2 linked regions of the Homo sapiens genome follow. The protein of the gene in region 1 purifies or fractionates together with the protein of each later gene. This does not show direct contact. Each region holds a gene or a part of one and is shown on either strand. Other genes may lie near its edges.

Evidence for each region.
Region 2: the proteins of EAF1 (region 1) and PLCD3 purify together in Homo sapiens (affinity purification with mass spectrometry; 4 studies listed by BioGRID and IntAct, with this or other methods). This does not show direct contact.

The regions. Positions count from the first base shown.
Region 1 is NC_000003.12:15,437,517-15,441,262, reverse strand, and holds part of EAF1 (ELL-associated factor 1), read right to left. Parts: intron 2,155-3,746; coding exon 2,108-2,154; 3' UTR 1-2,107. UniProt on the Homo sapiens protein: Acts as a transcriptional transactivator of ELL and ELL2 elongation activities.
Region 2 is NC_000017.11:45,130,642-45,134,387, reverse strand, and holds the start of PLCD3 (1-phosphatidylinositol 4,5-bisphosphate phosphodiesterase delta-3), read left to right. Parts: upstream 1-1,872; 5' UTR 1,873-1,977; coding exon 1,978-2,140; intron 2,141-2,671; exon of another isoform or gene 2,672-2,791; intron 2,792-3,746. UniProt on the Homo sapiens protein: Hydrolyzes the phosphatidylinositol 4,5-bisphosphate (PIP2) to generate 2 second messenger molecules diacylglycerol (DAG) and inositol 1,4,5-trisphosphate (IP3).

The DNA.
Region 1 (3,746 bases):
TCTGGTGGGTAAAGCTGGAGGGCAGAGGGCAGAACCACCAAAGGCTTTGTGCAGAGAACAAAATTGAAGCCGTGCTAGAGAAAAACCATACAGTGTTGGGCAGGACAGATGACAGGACAAACGGTCTGAAGCTCAGGAAGCTTGACTCACCAAGCCAGTGCCACGTGCAAGCATTTCCTATAGAAACACGTCTTGACCCAACATGCCAAAAACCATAGTTCTGTCTACAGAAATCAAGGCTTTCAGAAAAAAGTTGGGGAGGAGAGAAAGAGAGAGAGGCTTAAATAGATATTTTTAGTTCAAGTTCCTGGAACCTGCCCCAGTTTGAGCAAGTTAAGAGCAGTGAAACAATTCCTACATCCAGTAACAATTCAAGTCTCCTGATCATGACCTTGTGAAACCTTCCCTGAGCTGTCATTACCAAGGAATTATAAAGCAATTATCAATCCACTATAAATAAGTTCCTACCTGCCATTAAATCCACCAAAATCTCATGATGGGCTGAGAGCCCAGCACGGGGTCCTAGCGTAGACCTATTACCTACACTAGGGTAGGTGGTGTGAGCATGCTGCTGGGCAGTGGCTCTCTGGGCTCACTATGATGATGAAACAGTTGACTCTATGAAGTTTAACTCTAATGAAAGCCCCTATGACAGACCACCTATTTCCTTTCTAAGTCCAGACTGCTTCCCCTCCACTAGCTGGGGAGGGAGAGGCCATATGAGTGGAGGGACCTGTGGAGGAAAAATTATTATTACTACCTTGATGTCCGCTGAACCAAAGTGGATGGAAATTTCTCAGGACATATTCATCCAAACTACAAAAACAGGTTACTCCATACTGATTACAGGATGATTTATCACACATTCATTAAATATAGAACATTGACTAGCAACCAGTTTCCTCCAACAACAGATCCATTTGGAAATGGCACACTGTAGAAGGCAATCTTGTGACTTCCTTCTAGTTGTATATAAAAAATACAAATCGGTCAGGGAGTCAGGTACAAAACAGTGGTACAAAAGCATGAATAGATACGCCTTATCAAAGAATGTGCTCATTTCATATTGCAGAACTTCTATCTAGATTCTGATTTTTAGAAACTTACTGCTGGTTCATTTGTTCGGAGAGGTTTCTTCACACCTCTCTTCCACTCCTACCTCCCCTTGCTAAAATCCACTGACTGAAGAATACTTAGTATGGATCCACATGGAACCAAAATCCCCAACTGAATGGAGTCACATGCATCAGCACAGTGGCTACCGGTTTCATCTGCTCACCCAGCCTCATGTATTTAGGGACTGAATTCAAGCTAGAAGCACCCAACACTTTTGTCTTTTGGAATCTAATCCAAGTGCCAATGTACATCTAAAAGTCCCATGTATAGGAATCTCTTGATTCCTACAAATGAGATTCAAGGGAGAGAACAGTGAGGAAAGCCCAGAGAGGGGGCAGGAGACTGGCCACAAGCCAGGTGTGTACTTCCCTTTCTTAGTCTGTAAATGACAGGTTGAGCTGGCAGGACTCCATGGTCCTCACCAACTGACACTCAAGGACTCCATTCTGTATTCTGAGGTCCATTTCTATCCAGGCTTGTCAGGCTGAGTCAGACAAAACTTCCTTACCACTTTGTGTCAACAATTTAAAGTGGTTTTAACATACTTCTATGATGTAGTTTGAGGTTTTCCCTCTCTCTCCTACCCATCAAAGACTTCATTCCACTGGTACCAACCACTTGGCCAAACTGATGGCTGCTGAGGTTTAAAACTGAATCTCTGGCCTGGTGAAGATATGGCCTTTGAGTAACTTAGACCAGGGCACATTTATCTGTTTTTCATTAACAATTTTAACTAAATAGAAATATAATTCTGTTAGCTCTTCTACAGGTCTACTTAAACTTTGAAAGATGAGATTGTTCAAAAATGACACGAGAAAATCACCCATCACCACTAAGTTAAAGACTTGAATATGTGAGAGTTCCAGAGCCTCAAACTCCTACTACAGTCACTGATCCATAACATTTTCCTCTTGCAATGGACTCCACGCCAAAGTAGCTCAGTCTTGCGGCATGTTTGTGCACCAAAAAGTAGGTTTCGAAAGATCCAGCACTAGTCATCACTGTCACTGCCAGACTCACTCAACTGCAAGTCATTTCCTATTTAAAAAAAAAAATAAAGTAAAATCATAGAATCAAACAAAAGTACAGAATTTAAAAATGACTTCCTCATAATTTTTTGTTAATTGCCTTGGCTATCACACTACAGTAAAACCTTGTTAATTCAACTTAGGGAAGAAAATCAAATTGGCTCACTGAAACAAAATGGTGCTTTTGGTTATCTACAAAGCACAACAATACTGCATATTAGGGTAGAGCAAAGGAGAAGTAAGCTGGATAACTTTTAAATGGTTTAATAAATAGCAAGAAAATATTTAAAATATGTCTGGGCGCAGTGGCTCACGCCTGTAATCCCAACACTTTGGGAGGCCAAGGCAGGGAGATCATTTGAGGCCAGCAGTTGGAGACCAGCCTGGCCAACGTGGCGAAACCCCATCTCTACTAAAAATATAAAAATCAGCCACGTGTAGTGGGACATGCTTGTAATCCCAGGTACTTGGGAGGCTGAAGCAGGAGAATCGCTTGAACCCAAGAGGTGGAGGTTGCAGTAAGCCAAGATTGCACCACTGCACTCCAGCCTGGGCGATAGAGTGAGACTGTCTCAAGGAAAAAAAGAAAAAAGAAAAAAAAAAAAAAAGAAAATATTTAAAATAACTGATCACCATTCGGAAGAACTGATCACATTAAGTTGCTTTATAAAGGCAACTTAAGAAAATATCCGGTAGGCTTCCCATTAAGAAAGGTGAATACTGTTAACACCAGTAATATGCTAATGCAGTATCTGCTCTGGCACACCTCTGTCCAGGATAGTCACGTTATCTTAAATTTCAAATCTGAACTAACGTGCTTTACAAAACCCCAGATTCCTGTTTACTAGGCAGAATTTAGAAGAATATAATTACTTAACATTTCAATCTAATACAATAGGAATACATATAACAGAACCCCAGTTGATACCACTTGTAGCAAAAGTGATTTTCTTTATTTCCAAATTGCTAATCTCTAGGCCAGTTCTCCTCAAAGTCTATTCTGAGGACTCGGGGTTCCATGAAACCCTTTCAGGGGGGTCTGATCCTGAGGTCACCCCTTTTCTAACTACCTAGAATGCCAGATTTTCTTCATATACTTCAGTCTCTATGTTAAAGATGGGGCATATAATGGCAATGTCTTGAGATATTTTTGGTTGTCATGGGGCTGGGGAGGTGGGAAGAGACTGGTACTGGCATCTAGTGGGTAGACGTCAGGGATGCTCTTAAACATCCTACAATGTGCAGGACAACCTCCCACAAAGAAGACTTATCTTGCCCAAACTGCCCATAGTGCTGAGGTTGAGATTATCTCTGCCTGGTCCACAATAGTTGGATTAACTAGGTTAACTTCCCCACTGTTACCTCTAGACCTTCCAACTTCCTTAAAGGAAGGTGTACCAAGAGAGAACATTCATCAGGGTTCCAAAAAGAGAAAAGCATAGAAAATTAGCCCTCTGTTCACCTTCAAAACAAATAAATTTTTGTTCTTGTTTTCCTGTTTTACTTTAGTATCAACTGCATTAAAACACACCGAGGCCAGGCATGGTGGTTCATGCTTTTAATCACAGCACTTCGGCAGTTGGGGAAATTACTTGTACCCAG
Region 2 (3,746 bases), on another chromosome or scaffold:
ATCCCACCTCTGCCTCCCAAAGTGCTGGGATTACAGGCGTGAGCCACCGCATCCGGCCAATTTATTGTATATTTCAAAATAACTGGGCGGGAAGTGGTGGCTCAGGCCTGTAGTCCCAACACTTTGGGAGGCCAAGGCAAGAGAATTGCTTTGAGGCTGCAGTGAGCTATGATCATGCCACTGCACTCCACCCTGGGCAACCAAGTAGTGAGACCTTGTCTCTAATAAACAAATAAAATACAAATACAAATAACTAAAAGCGGAATTGGAATGTTCCTAATACAAAGGAATGATAAATGCTTGAGGTGATGGTTACTTCAATTACCTTGATTTGATCATTACACATTTTATACCTGTATCAAAACATTACATGCCTCTCCATAATTCTCTGCAACTATTAAGTGTCCATAACAATTAAAAGAAATGTAGACTTAGCCTATCCAACAACAAGAATAACAAAAGGGTAAACCAGGAGAATAAGGAAGGTTGTTTCTGGAGGAAGGAACGGCAGGATCAAAAGCACAAAGGCGAATACGATAATCAAGAAGAAAATTCAGGGCCGGGCGCGGTGGCTCACGCCTGTAATCCCAGCACTTTGGGAGGCCGAGGCGGGCGGATCACGAGGTCAGGAGATCGAGACCATCCCGGCTAAAACGGTGAAACCCCGTCTCTACTAAAAATACAAAAAATTAGCCGGGCGTAGTGGCGGGCGCCTGTAGTCCCAGCTACTTGGGAGGCTGAGGCAGGAGAATGGCGTGAACCCGGGAGGCGGAGCTTGCAGTGAGCCGAGATCCCGCCACTGCACTCCAGCCTGGGCGACGGAGCGAGACTCCGTCTCAAAAAAAAAAAAAAAAAAAAAAAAAAAAAGAAAATTCAGGACCCCAGAGTGGCGTAGGGACCCAAGCCAGTGTGCAGAATCTCTGGGCCTGGGAGATCTGAGGATGGGGTAGAGCAGGGCAAGTAGGTGGCAAATCAGGCCCTGAGCACTAGCCTCTCTGTAGGATGCCACGCCGCTGGCCGCCGCAAAGTGGCGGTGTGCGCCCATGTCTCTGCCGGACCCAGGCCACCGGCCGCAGAAACGCTGCCACCTGGACGTCCCCCACTTCGCGCACGCACTCTGGTGCTTGCATATAAATAGTAAGTGCACACCCGACTCGGCCACCAGAACCTGCACACGGATGCCCACCCACGGGTTGACGTCGCGGACAACTACACCGCGGGTGCCGGGCTGGGGTGCCGGCCTGTCCAAGCCTCGAACCCAGAACCAGTTGCTGGGGACTCCAGGCTCGGCTCCGCCTCACGCTCCCCAGGTCCGTCAGCTCCGAGACTGTGGCTCTCCGAGGGGGCAGCACCTGGCCTGGCACAGGGAGGTTAATCCTATGACGTCACTGCCAACCTCCCCACCCCCATGCCCATCCCTTCGGGTTCGCGCTGCCCCGAGCGGCTCAGCTCCCGGGGTTCTGCCTTCGCTCCCGGCCCTGCGTCCTGTCCCGGCTCTGGTTCCCTGCTGAGGCCTGCGGCGCGACGGGGACGCGGAAGGGAAGGAGGAGGGGGTCCTGCGTCAGCCTCGAGTCAGGGCCCCCGGGAAGGAGAGGGTGTCTGTGCCAGAGGATGGCCCTCGTCCCCGGTGCCGGCTCCCACCCCCAGCCCCGCAGCATGGGGGCTCTAGTCACCCTTGCGGCCAAGATCAGAGGCTCGCCCGGACTAAGGGGAGACGGACTCACGAGCAGGGGCGAGCGCTGAGGCTCCGGGCTTCCAGGCCACCGCCTGGCCCCGCCCTCGCACCGCCCCGGCCCCGCCCCCTTCCCTTCCCGCCCCGCCCCGCCCCACCTCCTGCTGCCTCCTCCGACTCCCTCCCGCGCCGCTAAGTTTCTTCGCTCGCCGCCTCGCTCAGAGCCGGGGCCGGGCCAGAGCGGCGCCCCGCTGCCCTGTCCCCGCGTGCAGACCCCGGGCCCGGCCCCGGCCCCCCGCCAAGCCATGCTGTGCGGCCGCTGGAGGCGTTGCCGCCGCCCGCCCGAGGAGCCCCCGGTGGCCGCCCAGGTCGCAGCCCAAGTCGCGGCGCCGGTCGCTCTCCCGTCCCCGCCGACTCCCTCCGATGGCGGCACCAAGAGGCCCGGGCTGCGGGCGCTGAAGAAGATGGGTCAGTGACGGGCAAGGGGCGGTGGGGTGGGCGCGGACCGTTCCCAGAGGCCCAGTCTGGGGCGCTCCAGGGAGCAGTTCGTGGATTCCCCAGGCTGCACGGGGCTGGGAGGCTATGGCTAGGGGCGGAGGGCCAGCTCCCTCCAGCTGGGGGTCGCACCTGGGGTCATCCGAGGGTCCCGGGGCGAGCCGGGCGCCCAGGGTGTTCTTTGCTTCCCACCAGGGGGCGCTCGCGGGGCGTCTGAAGCGCGAATTCGGGCACGGGGCGCTGGTGGGGTCTCCAAGGAGAATGGAGCGGGAGAGGGAGGCTTGGGGTGTCCCTCGTCCGGCTCCCCAGCAGTATCTAGGTTCTGCCAGGGTGTCTCGGGGTCTTGGCAGCCCTTAGGAAGGATGCGAGTTTGCGGTCGGCCTCCGCAGAAGAGGCTGGCCTCCACAGCAGCCCTCCAAGCCGCGGCCCCACAGAGGCGGCCACAGCCACACTGCTCTGGCAGGACTGGTCTAACAGCCTACGTCCGACAGCCAAGGCTCTCACCTCAGATTTGGGGAAGTCAGTCGTGGAGAAGGAATGTAACTGTGGCTCATTGGAACATCACAGAGGCAGCTGGCACTGGGTGGGTTACACAGGTGGTGTCTTGCAATCTTCCTCGACTTCCTAGGTGGGAGGTGAATCCTCATTTCACAAGTGAGGAAACTGACTCAGAGACGGCAAGGAATTTGCCTATGACCACACAGCCAACAAAGGGCAAAGTGTGACTGGCACCCCGGTGGTGCCCCACCACATGGGCCCTGGTACCCTCTCAGAGTCTGGGAAAAGTGGGACCCGCAGGGCAGTGGAGGGCTTGAATGAGAGGGTGTGTGCGAGAATGTTGTCTGACGTGGAAAGGACCGCGCCACTGAAGTGCTGCGTTGGACCTGCCATTGGTAGAATAGTCAGTGATGGAGAGGCTAGGTGTGGAACTCCGGAACAGAAGGACAAGGCTGCCAGGGACCCCGTGTAGAACTTGGGGCAGAATTCAGGGGTCCTGATTGCCAGTTTTGCCTTCTTGTTACCTCGACTCATTCCACCTGAGCGCTGACTATGTCTGGGCGCTGTGCCTGGCACTCTGGTTACTGAGACATAGGACACCATCTCTACCCTGCCATCCATTCAACTGTGCATGCATTGGACAAGCACTTATGCGGTGCCCATGGTATGGTACTATGGTACAAGCACTTGTGGAGTGCCTATGGTATGCTCCACCCTGGGGCTCTTGCATTAGAGAGCTGAGGTTCCAGCAGGGAGATCAGACAGTGAAACAAAGGAACAGGACCTTGGGGGTGGGGGAACAGGGGGCAGCACATGAGGGGCTGGGGAGCCAGCAGGCCCTGGCTGGCCCCAGCTGAGGAAGACGGGAGTGGCAAAGGGGAGAGGCTGGGGGTGGGAGGAGCTCCTCCAGGCCCTCCCTGGAGAGTCATGGACTTTATCTGGAGGGCATCAGGAGCCCCAGAAAGGGCTTGGGCAGGAGTGAGTGTGGAGAGTGGGGGGCAGGTTGGATGAAGGCAGGGGCGAAACAGGGAGACCCAAGGAGGGAGGCTGAGGAGTTAGTTGGGCAAGGGGTGGGGACCAG